Linked DNA regions of Homo sapiens: region 2 is linked to region 1. The links come from fine-mapping of genetic effects on gene expression. Tissue or cell type: whole blood. Region 1 holds a variant in brackets; the other region holds the start of a gene. All regions are shown on one strand. Distances are between the middles of the regions.

Evidence for each region. PIP is the estimated chance that this variant, and not a neighbour inherited with it, causes the effect.
Region 2: it holds the start of RPLP0, and the variant in region 1 is fine-mapped to the expression of RPLP0 in whole blood (INTERVAL, PIP 0.96).

The regions. Positions count from the first base shown.
Region 1 is chr12:120,144,629-120,152,731 of GRCh38, reverse strand. It overlaps GCN1 (GCN1 activator of EIF2AK4), which reads left to right. Exons shown (of 58, transcript NM_006836.2): 34 at 1,341-1,587; 35 at 2,689-2,810; 36 at 3,012-3,126; 37 at 4,386-4,565; 38 at 5,460-5,680; 39 at 7,402-7,470; 40 at 7,671-7,809; 41 at 7,897-8,093. Among named protein-coding and RNA genes, the nearest start is that of MIR4498, 6.8 kb to the left of the region's middle. The variant A/CA (reference allele first, on the strand shown) is at 3,635.
Region 2 is chr12:120,196,246-120,204,348 of GRCh38, reverse strand. It overlaps RPLP0 (ribosomal protein lateral stalk subunit P0), which reads left to right and starts at 3,238. Exons shown (of 8, transcript NM_001002.4): 1 at 3,238-3,266; 2 at 3,518-3,619; 3 at 4,864-5,039; 4 at 5,144-5,231; 5 at 5,349-5,495; 6 at 5,610-5,795; 7 at 6,887-7,027; 8 at 7,415-7,650. The coding sequence starts at 3,566. The coding sequence ends at 7,576. It overlaps PXN-AS1 (PXN antisense RNA 1), which reads right to left and starts at 3,058. Exons shown (of 4, transcript NR_038924.1): 1 at 2,923-3,058. RefSeq lists enhancers at 2,723-3,082, 3,483-3,552, 4,593-5,534, 5,654-6,153.

The DNA.
Region 1 (8,103 bases):
TTCTTTTTCTTTGTTTTGAAAAACACGCATGTATGTATATATAAATATATATATATTTATATATATATATTTTGTGTGTGTGTGTGTGTGTGTGCGCGTGTGTGTGTGGTTTGCATTTTGGACCACTTAGAGTGTCTTCATAAAGTGAACAGTTGGGCTGGGCGTGGTGGCTCATGCCTATAATCCCAGTGCTTTAGGAGGCTACAGGTGCGTTTTAATGTAGCCTCTAAGCTACAGTGCAAATAAATTTCTTTTTCTTTGTTTTGAAAAACACGCATGTATATATATATAAATATATATATATTTATATATATATATTTTGTGTGTGTGTGTGTGTGTGTGCGCGTGTGTGTGTGGTTTGCATTTTGGACCACTTAGAGTGTCTTCATAAAGTGAACAGTTGGGCTGGGCGTGGTGGCTCATGCCTATAATCCCAGTGCTTTAGGAGGCTGAGGTGGGAGGATTGCTTAAGGCCAGTAGTTCGAGACCAGCCTGGGCAACATAGTGAGATCCTGTCTCTACAAAAACTTTAAAAATTAGCCAGAGGTGGAGGCCATGCCTGTGTTCCTAGCTACTCAGGAGACCGAGGCAATAGGATTGCTTGAGTCCAGGAATTCAAGGTTATAGTGAATTATGATTGTGCCACTGCACTGTAGCCTGGGTGACAGAGTAAGACCCTATTTCTAAAAACAAAAACAAAAAACAACAAAAAACTTTACCAAAAAAATGCACAGTTGAAAACCAGTTTCCAAAATTGTGGTCAAATATGGTGTCAGAAAGCCTAAGCAGCAAAAGAGTCGCACCTGGGCACCTGCCAGCATGGCCTCGGGGTTGCTGCTCCCAAGCTGGGCTTAGTGAGCTGCGGCTGGGAGGCAGGATTGAGTGTCTTTTGGTTCCACTCAATTTGTGCCTGGTCCTATAAGGCCCTGCCCAATTTCTCTGTGATTTTGACAAGTTTGGAAACAGAGACACGGGCTGTTTTTATGGAGGCAAAGCAGCACACTTCTCTGGAAGCTTTCTTTCTGAGTGGATTTAGTCTTTAGAGTCCCTTCCTTGGTCCCCTGCCCCACTGCCCAGGCCTAGGTTTTCCATTTAGACCAGAAATGGCACCATATGGGCCAAAGCTTTTGTCGTCAGCAGATTGTAGTGTGCACCCTCAGAGGTATACAACACTGTGTATACCTGTTTGCTTCTCTGGTGCCCTGTGACATCCGCAGGCAGTGGCTGAGATGGGGCTTGGGACATCTAGTGGTGGGTGCTGTGTAGAATGGTCAGACCCCCCACCAACCATGAAACGGCTGCAGCGGAGCCACAGCATTGACAGGTGGGCCCTTCCCCAGGTCCAGGAGTCCGTAGCCAGCTGCTTGCCACCCCTTGTGCCAGCCATCAAGGAGGATGCTGGAGGGATGATCCAGAGGCTTATGCAGCAGCTGCTGGAGTCAGACAAGTACGCAGAGCGCAAAGGGGCCGCCTATGGCCTGGCGGGCCTGGTGAAGGGCCTGGGCATCCTCTCGCTGAAGCAACAGGAGATGATGGCGGCACTGACTGATGCCATCCAAGATAAGAAGAACTTCCGCCGGCGAGAGGGTGAGCATCTCTGAGCTTGGGGCTGCCCAGCATGGGAAGTTGGTCCCCAGGTTGCCAGAGGAAGGAATCTGACCGTGGCGCCCCAGGTGGAGGCCGTTGCTTGTGCGTGTACTACAGAGGGCCCCGCTGTGTGCGACCCAGTCCAGCTGCGTCCTTGCTGCTTTCCTTGGACTTGCAAATTTTTTTTTCTTTTCTGTTTTTTTTTTTTGAGACGGAGTCTCGCTCTGTCGCCCAGGCTAGAGTGCAGTGGCGTGATCTTGGCTCACTGCAAGCTCAGCCTCCTGGGTTCATGCCATTCTCCTGCCTTAGCCTCCCAAGTAGCTGGGACCACAGGCGCCCGCCACCACGCCCGGCTAATTTTTTGTATTTTTAGTAGAGGCGGGGTTTCACCGTGTTAGCCAGGATGGTCTCGATCTCCTGACCTCGTGATCTGTCCGCCTCAGCCTCCCAAAGTGCTGGGATTACAGGCATGAACCACCGCGCCCGGCCACAAATTTCTAACTCAGCAACACCCTTAGCTGAGAGAGGTTTGGCTTTTCTTTCTTTCTTTCTTTCTTTTTTTTTTGAGATGGAGTCCCACTCTGTCTCCAGGCACAATCTCGGCTCACTGCAATCTTCACCTCCTGGGTTCAAGCAATTCTCCTACCTCAGCCACCCTAGTAGCTGGGGTTACAGGTGCCCACCACCATACCCAGCTAATTTTTGTATTTTTAGTAGAGACAGGGTTTCACCATGTTGGCCAAGATGGTCTCTATTTCCTGACCTCGTGATCTGCCTGCCTCAGCCTCCCAAAGTGTTGGGATTATGGGTGTGAGCCACCGCGCCCGGCCAAGGTTTGGCTTTTTTAACTGTTAGTGCCAAGAAGTGAAGGTGGCTCCCCTGTGCTGTCCTCCCTTTCGCTCAGCCACATTCCTTTGCTGGGGCTTCTTGAGCTGAGGCAGAGGGTGCTGCCTCCTCATGGGGCATCTACTAGTTCCACAGCTGTTTCTGAGTGTTTCCAGAGGGGTGGGAGGTGGCAGGGAGGTTGCTGTCCCTTCTGTTCTCTGTGGCTACCCCCAGGGGACATTCTCTTCCCAGCCGTCCCACCTTCTTTTCCCCTAGGAGCCCTCTTTGCCTTCGAGATGCTCTGCACCATGCTGGGGAAACTTTTTGAGCCGTATGTGGTTCACGTGCTGCCCCATCTGCTCCTGTGCTTTGGGGATGGAAACCAGTATGTGCGTGAGGTAAGTCCCCGGACTGCTCGGGAGAACAGCATGGAAACTTTATGAGATGTGTTCCCAGCTGTGTCTGCAGGCCTTGGCACAGGGTCTGACATAATAGAACCCCAGTAAGCGTTGGTTATAGGAGGAACGCTAGGACTGGTGTCAGGCCTTGCCCCTTGCTTGGGTGAGGAGGCCCCTGAATGTGTTTTCTCCCCCCTTGAGGCTGCAGATGACTGTGCCAAGGCTGTGATGAGCAACTTGAGTGCTCACGGGGTGAAGCTGGTGCTCCCCTCCTTACTGGCTGCCCTGGAGGAGGAATCGTGGCGGACCAAAGCTGGTAAGACCACTCGCTCTGCCTCTCTTCCCAGCTTCCTGTTATGAAAACCAGCCTCAGCAAGGATCCTGGGTAGCCACAGCTCTTGTCCTGTGAGCTCCCCAGACCAGGGATAGGGTTAAGACTCTGCCTTTTTAAAAATTTGAGATGGAGTCTTGCTCTATCACCCAGGCTGGTCTTTACCTTTGGGGCTCAAACCATTCTCACAGGAGCATGCCACTACACCTGGCTAATTTTTGTATTTTTTTTTGTAATGATGGAGTCTCGCTATGTTGCCCAGACTGGCCTTGAATTCCTGGGTTCAAGTGACCCTCCTGCCTTGGCCTCCCAAAGCACTGGGATTGCAGGTGTGAGTCACCACGCCTGGCCAGCTCTCCCTCTGGCAGTTGGATCTTTCTATAGTTTATGTGCTTTCATGCCAAGAAACAGGTCTCTGACAAGAGCCACAACCCTAAGTCAGGATATCCTAAAGCTCTAAAGCTCCTCTTTGGCTTTAAAGTTTTCCCCCCCC[A/CA]GGAAAGCTCTTTTTGAAAATAACCTTAGGCAGGAGAATCTCTTGAGGGCAGGAATTTAGACCAGCCTGGGCAATATAGCAAGACCCTACCTCTACCAAAAAAAAAAAAAATAGGCCAAGTGTGGTGGTGCATGCCTGTAGTCCCAGCTACTCAGGAGGCTGAAGTGGAAGGATCACTTGAGCCCTGGAGTTTGGGGCTGCAGCGAGCTATAATCTTGCCACCACACTCCAACCTGGGCAGCAGCGTGAGACCCTGTCTCAAAAATAAATAAATAAAATGTCTGGCACCCTAATAAGCAAACAGATAAAAGTAGAGCTGCTCTAGTTGGGGGAGGATCACCATCTAAGGCCCTCCCACTCAACCTCCTTCTCAGTCCTTCAGGCTTCACCCTGTAGTTTGAAACAACACAAATCTAAATCAGTTTCCTCATTTGTGGATGAAGAAACAGTTCAGAGAAATTCAGTGAATTGGCCTTGGATCTCACTGTAAGGATTAAACCAGGTCTTACCTATCCTGGTCTCTTTCTCCCATACTGCCCTGCCTCTCACCTGGGATCCCACTGTTCAGCAGGCCACAAGAGCTTTTTCGACCCCTCTGCTAGAGCCAGCCCCCTCTCCCCTCCTCCCAGTGACTGCTTGAGCACCGTCTGCAGGGGCCAGGGTAGATGTCCCTTGCTCATGTAGCCAGCACAGGTGAGTTGCTGGCCTTTGCTCAGTGATTCAGTACTGGGCTTGTGTCTGCTATCCACAGGGTCAGTGGAGCTTCTTGGGGCAATGGCGTACTGTGCTCCTAAGCAGCTGTCATCCTGTCTACCCAACATTGTGCCCAAGCTTACGGAGGTGCTGACCGACTCCCATGTCAAAGTCCAGAAGGCTGGACAGCAGGCGCTCAGGCAGATCGGCTCCGTTATCAGGAACCCGGAGATCCTGGGTAGGCCTTTCCCGTGAGGGTGCTTGCCCTGACCTCCCACCAACGCCGCAGCCTTTGGACACTGCAGGGAACTTGCACCCATTCAGCTAAGATCTTTGCCTCCGAGGACAAATATGTTCACAGTGAAATAGGGACACTGAGTCATTGGCTCAGGAGCAGTTTGACTCCAAGAGATCCCTGTGCACTAAGCTGAGCATGAGGTCAACAGAACTGAATGACATTATCTGGACCACATCAGCACCATTCAAAATGTTAGGACCTGTGAAAACTTGCTATTCCATCTCATTCCAGGAGGCCTTTGATAGAGGGGAGGGTTAAGGAAGGGTTAGGATTAACCTGACTACTCTGGATGTGGTTCTTTCTCAAGTACTGGGAAGAGGTCGATCGCTAGGAACAAAACCCAGCCAGCCACCTTGACCAGCATGTCACTTGTTAAATTCTAAGCTTCAGCTGCCAGTGCCCAGTCAGTACTTCAGTCTGGAAAGTGGAATAACCTCAAAATACATAAAACAAAATTTATAAAGCTATAGGGAAAAGTTAACAAATACATTATATCATAGTGGGAGATTTCAACACACTTCTCCATTACCGATAGGCAAACCAGAAATTTACTAAGGATACATGCTTTTCAAAAATTTTATTTCTGTGGCTCATGCCTGTAATCCAGCGCTTTGGGAGGCTGAGGCGGGCGGATCACCTGAGGTCAGGAGTTGGAGTGAAACAAGGATTGCTCTTTGTGGGTTTCCTGTCTTCCCCAGCTGGTGACTTGTGGGGTTTCAGGGAGGAGGTGTGCCAGACTCCCTTCTCTTCTGATCCATTCTAGTTCTGGGGGCCCAGGGGCCTTGCAGCTGCATAGATGTATATCATCCAGCTCTCTTCTCTTTGGATGTGCAGCCATTGCTCCAGTCCTCCTGGATGCCCTGACGGATCCCTCCAGGAAGACCCAGAAGTGCTTGCAGACCCTGCTGGACACCAAGTTTGTCCACTTCATTGATGCCCCATCCCTGGCCCTCATCATGCCCATTGTCCAGAGAGCCTTCCAGGACCGTTCCACGGACACGCGGAAGATGGCAGCCCAGATTATTGGCAACATGTACTCCCTGACAGACCAGAAGGTAGCGGCCCAGCTGAGGCTAGTGTGGGATAGACCAGAAGATGTTTGAGTGCAGAGTCAGAGGTGCAGAGTCCCCACATTAGACATGGAAAGTTATGGACGTTAGTCCCTAATTATTTTTATGGGGAGAAATGAGCCATTTTGTGGTGGAAATCCGGGCTCTCTGGGCATCTTAGCGCAGTGGTTCAAGTCCTTCTTAGTTCTCAGCTGAGGCCCAGAAAGGCCTGTCTTCTCTTTTGACCTCTCAAGAGTGTTGAAGTGCTTGCCACTTTGACTACTTGCTCTTGACAAGAATACTCCTGTATTGTTGTCAGGAGAGCCTGGTTTGGGAGATTTTGTTTGTTTGTTTGTTTGCTCCCAAGAGCTTGCATGTGTGATCTCACTGTCTGCCTTAGGAGCTCACATGTGTGGTCTCACTGTCTGCCATAGCTCTGCTTTGCTTACTGAGGCTATGGGCAAAAAAAATATATAAAAGTTATATTAATCCTAGAAAATTTGGGAAATTAAAAAACCAGAAAAACAGACCAGGCTTGGTGGCTAATGCTTGTAATCCCAGGACTTTGGGATGCTGAAATGGGAGGATAGCTTGAGCCCAGGAGGTTGAGGATACAGTGAGCCGTGATAATACCGCCGTGATAATACCACCGCACTCCAGCCTGGGGTGACAGAGCAAGACCCTGTCTTAAAAAGTAAATTAATTAATTAAAAAAATTAGAAAACCAAAATATTTTATCTACAGTTCCCCACCACGAAAATAATTACTGTTAATTTTTTTTTTTTTTTTTTTGAGATGGAGTCTTGCTCTGTTGCCAGGCTGGAGTGCACTGAATCAGTCTCGGCTCACTGCAACCTCTGCCGCCTGGGTTCAAGCGATTCTCCTGCCTCAGCCTCCCGAGTAGCTGGGATTACAGCCGCCCACCACCATGCCTGGCTAATTTTTGTATTTTTAGTAGAGACAGGGTGAAACCATGTTGGCCAGGCTGGTCTCGAACTCCTGACCTCAGGTGATCCACCCGCCTCGACTTCCCAAAGTGCTGGAATTATAGGCGTGAACCACCGTGCCCGGCCAATTACTGTTAATTTTTAAAATTACATTTAAAAATGGCATTCCTAAACTTAAAACTTATTCCCAAGTTATAACAAGTTATTCACAAAACTGATTTTTAATAGTTACATAATATCTCAACAAGTTTATATACCATAACTTATATAATTCTATCATTGGTCATATAGTGTCCAAGGTTTTTGGCTATTTTAAGTGATGCTGCAGTGAACATAAGGCATTTTCTGTATTTAAAATTATTCCCTAAAGCTGAATGCTCTATCAAAAGACATAAACATTTTGAGATGAAGAAAGGGAAGATGTTAATAAAATTCTGAAAGGAAATTACCAGAAGTAATTTGCTAAAGATTCCAGAGTCTGGACAGGCCTTGGTCCTAAGAGAAGGGTGGGAGGTGCAAGAGCATTGAACTCCTGTTTGTTGAGGATGGGCCTGGGGTCCCTTGTAGGAGTCCCTGAGCAATTGCAGAGGGCCTTGAAGGAACCAGTCGGAGAGGGGACTTACTTGCCCTCCCTGTTCCGTGGGCAGTGAGGTTTGCATGCTAGGTGCCCCTGCCAAGCACTCCTTGCCAGCAGAATGGGGAGGTCAGGGTCCACAGTGGAACAGGCCTGGAGAAAGCAGGAGTCGGGCCTCACCTGAGCCGCCTCCTGTGTTGTTGCAGGACTTGGCTCCGTACCTGCCCAGCGTGACGCCTGGCCTGAAAGCATCGCTTTTGGACCCTGTGCCTGAGGTGAGTCTGAGGTAGGCTGGGGGATGGGCCAGGCCCCTCATCCAGTCCCCATAAATGGATTCCTGAGAATTCCCCAAAGCTGCTTTTGTGTCTGTTGGGTAAAGAGAAAGAGGCCCTCGGTGCCCCTTCCTGCTCCCATGTGGCTACCTTGTTTTGAGCCTCATCTTCTCACACCATCTCTGCTCTCGGTTACCTGACAGGTGCGGACCGTATCTGCAAAGGCCCTTGGGGCCATGGTGAAGGGCATGGGGGAGTCGTGCTTTGAGGACTTGCTGCCGTGGCTGATGGAGACACTGACCTATGAGCAGAGCTCTGTGGATCGCTCAGGCGCTGCACAGGGTAAGGCCAGAGCAGGTCCAGTGGCCAGCCTGGGAATGCTCTAAGGGGCCCTCAGATCCAGTGGACTCATTCTGTCCTTTGTTGCAGGGTTGGCTGAGGTCATGGCCGGTTTGGGGGTGGAGAAGTTGGAGAAGTTGATGCCAGAAATCGTGGCTACAGCCAGCAAAGTGGACATTGCACCCCATGTCCGAGATGGCTACATTATGATGTTTAACTACCTGCCCATCACCTTTGGAGACAAGTTTACTCCTTATGTGGGGCCCATCATCCCCTGTATCCTCAAAGTAGGTACCA
Region 2 (8,103 bases), 52 kb before region 1:
CACAGAGGTCTCAGTTGGAGCTACTGATTTATGGTAGAACAAGATGAGATTGACAGCACTTGAGCTACCCGTATCTAAATTCTGTTCAGGGAATTTTATGCCAGTCAGCTGCACCAATATACCCTGCCATGCAAGTGTCTTGGTTTTAAACCTGCTACCGCCACCACCCCCCGCCCCGCCCACCACTTTACCAAATTATTCATGTTGGCCTGATTTTCTTACTCTTCCATCTTTTCTGGCATTTTTTGGGGTGTGTGTGTGTGTGTGTGTGTGTGTGTGTGTGTGTAGCTGCTTTAGAGACATTCTGCCACCTTTCTGGACTTCGCTCGATCAGGGAGAGTAGGCAGATTGTGATTGGAATCTTTTTTTTTTTTTTTTTTTTTTTGAGACAGAGTCTCTCTCTGTCACCCAGGCTGGAGTGCAGGGGCACAATCTCGGCTCACTGCAAGCTCCGCCTCCCGGGTTCACCCCATTCTCCTGCCTCAGCCTCCCAAGTAGCTGGGATTACAGGCACATGCCACCACGCCCGGCTAGTTTTTTATATTTTTAGTAGAGATGGGGTTTCACTGTGTTAGACAGGATGGTTTCGATCTCCTGACCTCGTGATCCGCCCACCTCAGCCTCCCAAAGTGCTGGGATTACAGGCGTGAGCCACCGCACCTGGAGTGATTGGAATCTTAATAACCTGTCAAAACAGCATTTAAATCTCATTCATGTTATTTTCCATCCTTCCCATGGAACACAGATAGCCAAGAAGACAAATAAAAGAGACCCCAGGCCAGGCACAGTGGCTCACGCCTGTAATCCCAGCACTTTGGGAGGCTGAGCTGGGTGGATCACCTGAGGTCAGGAGTTCGAGACCAGCATGACCAAAATGGAAAAACCCCGTATCTACTAAAAATACAAAATTAGCCGGGCATGGTGGCACATGCCTATAATCCCAGCTACTCAGGAGGCTGTGGCAGGAGAATCACTTGAACCCGGGAGGTGGAGGTTGTGGTGAGCCGAGATTACGCCATTGCACTCTACCCTGGGCAACAAGAGTGAAATTCTGTCTCAAAAAAAAAAAAAAAAAAAGAAAAGAAAAGAAAAAAGAAAAGAAAAAGAAATACAGTAACGTGAAATCGAGCTACTTCTAACTTTTTTTTTTTTTTTTGAGACGGAATCTTGCTCTGTCACCTAGGCTGGAGTACAGTGGCGCAATCTCAGCTCACTGCAACCTCTGCCTCCTGGGCTCAAGCAATTCTCCTGCCTCAGCCTCCCAAGTAGCTGGAATTACAGGAGCCCGCCACCACTCCTGGCTAACTTTTGGTATTTTTTAGTAGAGACGGGGTTTCACTGTGTTAGCCAGGATGGTCTGGATCTCCTGACCTCGTGATCTGCCCACCTCAGCCTCCCAAAGTGCTGGGATTACAGGCATGAGCCCCCGCACCCGGCCTACTTCTGACAGTTTTATGGTGTGTGATATAGGATATAACATGATGTATGAAGCTCTTTGTAATAATTTTTAATTTTGAAATAGCTGATTCTTTGGGGATCATTTAATACATAATTCCATAGGTTTCAGTGAAAAAAAAAAAAAAAAAGAGATCTCAGGGTTGGGCAAGGTGTCTCATTCTTGTAATCCCAGCAATTTAGGAGGCCAGGGTGGGAGGATTGCTTGAGCCCAGAAGTTTGACATCAGCCTAGGCAACATGGCAAGACCCCATCTATACAAAAAGTACAAAAAATTAGCTTGGCGTGGTGGTGTGTGCCTGTAGTCCTAGCTACTTGGGAGGCTGAGGTGGGAGGATCACTTCAGCCTGGGAGGTCAAGTCTGCAATGAACTGAGATTGCTCCACTACACTCTAGCCTGGGCAACGGAGTGAGACTGCTTCTCAAAAAAAAAAAAAAAAAAAAAAAAAAAAAAAAAAGATTTGATGGAGGTGAATTATTCTATGGATGTTTGTTGGCTAGTTTTCTAGGAAGAGGGAATGGCTAATGCAAAAGCCCCCAAGTAAAGCCTGCTCTGGAAAAGCAGCAGAGCATCATCTGGGTAGAAAGCAAGTAAGTGAGGAGGAAAACATCTGAGATGATCAGAGTGGGCGTGAGGGACAGATAGGTAAGGGCCTTGTAGGTACTTTAGGTTTTAGATTTTTACTCTGTAGGAAACGGAAAGTTTTAAGCAGATAAGGAGATGAGCTGACTTAGGTTTTTTTTTTTTTTTTTTTTTTTTTGAGATGGAGTCCCTCTCTGTCACCCAGGCTAGAGTGCAATGGTGTGATCTTAGCTCACTGCAGAGCTCACAGCTCCCGGGTTCAAGCGATTCTTCTGCCTCGGCCTCCTGAGTAGCTGGGATTACGGGCATGCGCCACCCCACCTGGCTAATTTTTGTATTTTTAGTAGAGACGGGGTTTTGCCATGTTGGCCAGGCTAGTCTCGAACTCCTGACCTCAGGTGATCCACCCGCCTCGTCCTCCCGAAGTGCTGGGAGTATAGGCGTGAGCCACCGCGCCCGGCCAGGTTTTAAAGGATCCCTCTGTTTTGGTAGGCGGAAAAACTAGAGAAGACGAGAGACCATTCTGAGGCCGGGCGCGGCGGGTCACGCCTGTAATCCCAGCACTTTGGGAGGCCGAGGCGGGCAGATCACGAGGTCAGGAGATCGAGACCATCCTGGAGAACATGATGAAACCCCGTCTCTACTAAAAATACAAAAAAAAAATTAGCCGAGCACGGTGGCGGGCGCCTGTAGTCCCAGCTACTCCGGAGGCTGAGGCAGGAGAATGGCGTGAACCCGGGAGGCGGAGCTTGCAGTCAGCCGAGATGGCGCCACTGCGCTCCAGCCTGGGCGACAGAGCGACACTCCGTCTCAAAAAAAAAAAAAAAAAGAGAAACCATTCTGTTTCTAAGCATGTGCAATTATGTCTCAGCTCCACGTCATACCTTTTAGTTTGCTGAGCTCGCCAGGTGGCACAGGGAACCGGGACTCCGAATTCGCAGCTCCAGCTCCAGCTCCAGCCCAGCAGGTGGCAGCAGCTCAGAGCAAGCTCCTCCAACGCGAGGCAGCGCCTTCCTTCGCGACCCTACTTAAAGGCGGCTTTCCGTTGGCTGGAGTGGCAGCGATATTATCCAATGGTTGCCTGTATTCGTTCAGCTTTGTCTGACGGGCGATGGCGCAGCCAATAGACAGGAGCGCTATCCGCGGTTTCTGATTGGCTACTTTGTTCGCATTATAAAAGGCACGCGCGGGCGCGAGGCCCTTCTCTCGCCAGGCGTCCTCGTGGAAGGTTCGTGTGCTAGTTAGATGGGCGCCAGGGGTCGCCGGCGGGAAGCATGGAGGGGTCTTTGGGGGCCTTTGGGAACATGGAGTCCTATTCTGTTCCGCCTGGGGCCTCGGTGGCGGCTTGCACGCCCCGAGATGACGGCCGCTGCCCTAGGCAGGGCCGGCGGGCGATTGCGCGTGTCCTGCTCCTCTTAGGCCCGGGACCGCGGGATGGGTGTCGGCGTGACCAGGCCTGAGCTCCCTGTCTCTCCTCAGTGACATCGTCTTTAAACCCTGCGTGGCAATCCCTGACGCACCGCCGTGATGCCCAGGGAAGACAGGGCGACCTGGAAGTCCAACTACTTCCTTAAGATCATCGTAAGTGCAGGGTGGGTCGCCTCTGCTCTTCATGTTGCCCCAGCGCAAATAGGGACAGTCAGCTGCTATGTGCTGAGGGTCTACTCACACCGGCTACTGAATTAGGCCATTTTTGGGAAAATACTGTTTAGTTAACAATTTCCTGAGATAGGTCCCTTCTGTTGCAGATAAACGGGCTCAGGCAAGTTAAGTGGGTCCTAAGATGACAGCATTCGTATCCAGGTCTGTCTGGCTTCTAAAAGAGCGCGCTTTATACTTTTTTTTTTTTAAACGGAGTCTCGCTCTGTTGTCCAGGCTGGAGTGCAGTGGCTTGATCTTGGCTTACTGCAACCTCCGCTTCCCAGGTTCAAGCGATTCTCCTGCTTCAGCCTCCCGAGTAGCTGGGATTACAGGGGCGCGACACCACACCCAGCTAATTTTTGTATTTTCAATAGAGACAGGGATTCACCATGTTGGCCAGGATGGTCTCGATCTCTTGACTTCATGATCCACCTTCCTCGGCCTCCCTAAGTGCTAGGATTACAGGTGTGAGCCACCGCGCCCGGCCGCACATTACAGTTTTACTCCATTTTTGAGAAGGTCTGAGGTCAGGAATGACTCATTGTAAGGAAGCAAGCTGTTGCATATTTAGGACCTGTCAGCCAAGAAACTTAAGTGTCCAATGACTTTTGGATGGCCTTTGAGGTGGGTCTCCCTTGCCCAGAAATGCTGACTGTACTGCGCTTAAGCAATTAGGCAGCATTGTAGAGCATAGCTTGTATTACATTTTCCCACACTTAGAAGGTTTTCAGACACAAAACCCAAAGGAATTGTGTAACAATCCGGATAAACACGCCTAGATTGTTTTTACAAATAATAATGTTGCTATATTTGCTTAACGTGGTGCTTTTAATGCTGTGAATCTAGCCCTCCTCTTGACCAACTTACTTGGAACATTCCTTTTTTATCCTGTTAACCATTTTAGTGAATCAGAAGCATGCCTGGTAATTGGGAAAAATTAAAAACTAAGTAAAAAAAGAAAAAACTCCTTGATTGAATGTAGAAACCTAATTTTCAGCGTTCATACCCAGCTAGCCAATCATCCAGTTTGGCAGTGTTACAACGTAGCTCCCAATCTCCCTCTGACTTCAAAAGCTTAGAAGAAAGGGAGTGGGATGGAAACAAATTGTGGGGTTCAGTTTCTTCTGGCATTTTTTCCCTCTCTCTTCCTGTTAAACTTGGCTCCTCTGGCTTGTTTTTTGTAGCAACTATTGGATGATTATCCGAAATGTTTCATTGTGGGAGCAGACAATGTGGGCTCCAAGCAGATGCAGCAGATCCGCATGTCCCTTCGCGGGAAGGCTGTGGTGCTGATGGGCAAGAACACCATGATGCGCAAGGCCATCCGAGGGCACCTGGAAAACAACCCAGCTCTGGAGAAGTCAGTTCCCCTGGCAGTTTTGTCCTTTCTCCCCAGTGCCCGTCTCCCTCTTCCTGGAGAATGGTGCTGAAAGGTGATTGTCTCCCATAAACTTCTCTTTGCAGACTGCTGCCTCATATCCGGGGGAATGTGGGCTTTGTGTTCACCAAGGAGGACCTCACTGAGATCAGGGACATGTTGCTGGCCAATAAGGTAAGGGGACAATTGGGTTGGCTAAAGAGACTTTGTTGTTGCTCCTTAAAGCAAAATGGACCATTCTCAGGTTGTGTGAGTGGAGAGGCTTTTCTCACTGTTTGTTGTCTTTGTCAGGTGCCAGCTGCTGCCCGTGCTGGTGCCATTGCCCCATGTGAAGTCACTGTGCCAGCCCAGAACACTGGTCTCGGGCCCGAGAAGACCTCCTTTTTCCAGGCTTTAGGTATCACCACTAAAATCTCCAGGGGCACCATTGAAATCCTGGTGAGTGGACCTGGTTTGCCTGTGCTAACCAGGCAAATGGGGAGCTGCTTTTAGTGGCCATGGATCTGCTGGTTGTCCAACAGGTGTTTACTGCCCCACTATTATCTGGTTCAGAGTGATGTGCAGCTGATCAAGACTGGAGACAAAGTGGGAGCCAGCGAAGCCACGCTGCTGAACATGCTCAACATCTCCCCCTTCTCCTTTGGGCTGGTCATCCAGCAGGTGTTCGACAATGGCAGCATCTACAACCCTGAAGTGCTTGATATCACAGAGGAAACTCTGCATTCTCGCTTCCTGGAGGTATATGCTGTCAGCCTTGCCCCCTCTTACACTGATGGTTGAGAGCATGACAAGGTTCAGACTGAGTCCCTGTAACCAAGGACTGTGTTTTCATCTGTCTACCTACCTCATCTGTAAAATGTCAGTAACAACATAAGATTGTTGAAGGATTTTTTTTTTTTTTTTTTGGAGACAGAGTCTTGCTGTGTCGCCCAGGCTGGAGTGCAGTGGCACAATCTCCCGGCTCACTGCAAGCTCCGCCTCCGGGTTCACACCATTCTCCTGCCTCAGCCTCCTGAGTAGCTGGGACTACAGGCACCCGCCACTACGCCCGGCTAATTTTTTTGTATTTTTAGGTTTCACCGCGTTAGCCAGGATGGTGTCGATCTCCTGACCTCGTGATCCGCCCAACTCGGCCTCCCAAAGTGCTGGGATTACAGGCATGAGCCACCACGCCTGGCCAAAGGATTTAATGAATTAATGGATGTACAGTGCTGGGGCTGTTATTCTAGGGCCTGCATTGAGACTCACATTTTGCCATCAAAAGCCTTTTAAGAGGTGGAGGTTGCGGTGAGCTGACATGGTGCCACTGCACTCCGGCCTGAGTGACAGAGTGAGACTCTGTCTCACAAAAAAAATAATGCCCTTTAAATAATGAATAATAGTGATAGAAAATGTCATTTCTTGGACAAATGAAAAATTGAAATTAATGTATATAATTAGATATTATTAGCTACTCTTAGGTAGCTTCATTTGTTGAAAGTTTGACAAGTGAATGAAGTTCACATCTGGAAATCGTTGAACATTTTTCGTTCATGGAACTCAATGGCTACGTTAGTCGTTTATGCTTTTCACTGTTGTGGTAGGGGCTTTGGAAGTAAATGCCATCAACAATGGATACAGAAGACCTGGATTTGGAATAAGGGCAAAATTTATTTGATGGGGCTGAATTGCTCTGCCAGGAGCATTTGGTATGAGATGAAATGGCCTCTCTTGAGACTGAGCTGCCAACCTGGCAATTATTGTCTGCTAAGGGTTCTCTTTATTCACCCTTACTTGGACTTCCTTTCCTGTAGGGAATCTCACGTAAAATGAAATCTTCCCTCCCCCAGGGTGTCCGCAATGTTGCCAGTGTCTGTCTGCAGATTGGCTACCCAACTGTTGCATCAGTACCCCATTCTATCATCAACGGGTACAAACGAGTCCTGGCCTTGTCTGTGGAGACGGATTACACCTTCCCACTTGCTGAAAAGGTAAAAGGATCCCACCAGGACCACAGTGGGCCTGACTGTGACAAATTAGCAGGGTGATGTGGCCTTCTACCTTACTGCTTTTATAGTTGTATTTTATATAGCAGATAATTTTGTGAGGGGATATTTGAGAGGTTGGGAGGCAGGGAAGGCGTTTCTCACTTGAGAAATGACAAGAGACCCAAAGAGGGGGTTAATGGGCAAGAGCTGGGCCTTAGGAACCCTGCCTCACTAGGCCATACCCAAGCTGTCCTGCTTGGGCTGCTTCTGACAGGAAAGGCTTCACACGGACTTTGATATTGTTGGTCCTTAAACTCTACCAAGGCAGGAGGGTGGTGGGTAATAGAGGAGTGTGGATGACCATTTTGACCACTTCCCCCCTCCTTTCAGGTCAAGGCCTTCTTGGCTGATCCATCTGCCTTTGTGGCTGCTGCCCCTGTGGCTGCTGCCACCACAGCTGCTCCTGCTGCTGCTGCAGCCCCAGCTAAGGTTGAAGCCAAGGAAGAGTCGGAGGAGTCGGACGAGGATATGGGATTTGGTCTCTTTGACTAATCACCAAAAAGCAACCAACTTAGCCAGTTTTATTTGCAAAACAAGGAAATAAAGGCTTACTTCTTTAAAAAGTCTCTGGACTCTTAATTTTGTAATTTTTTTTCCTTTTTGACACAGGGTCTGGCTGTTGCCCAGGCTGGAGTGTGGTGGTGTAATCATAACTCACTGCACCCTTGAACTCCTGGGATCAAGGGATCCTCGTATCTCAGCCTCCCAAGTAGCTGGGACTACAGGCACACACCATGACACTCAGCTACTAATTTTTAAATTTTTTTTTTGTAGAGATATTGCACAAGCTGGTCTCAAATTCCTGGCCTCAAGGAATCCTGCCTCAGCCTCCCAAAGTGCTAGGATTACAGGCTTGAGCCACCATGTGCCTGGCCCTTAATTTTGAGGTTTATAGTGCCATATGCTAGAAACGAAAGCCATGGTAAAACCAGAGCTTTGTATTTAGGTGTTGATGTTTGGGTATCTAAATGAAGCTACCAATCAAACATCCTATACAGTTTTCTAGACACAGTTGTAAC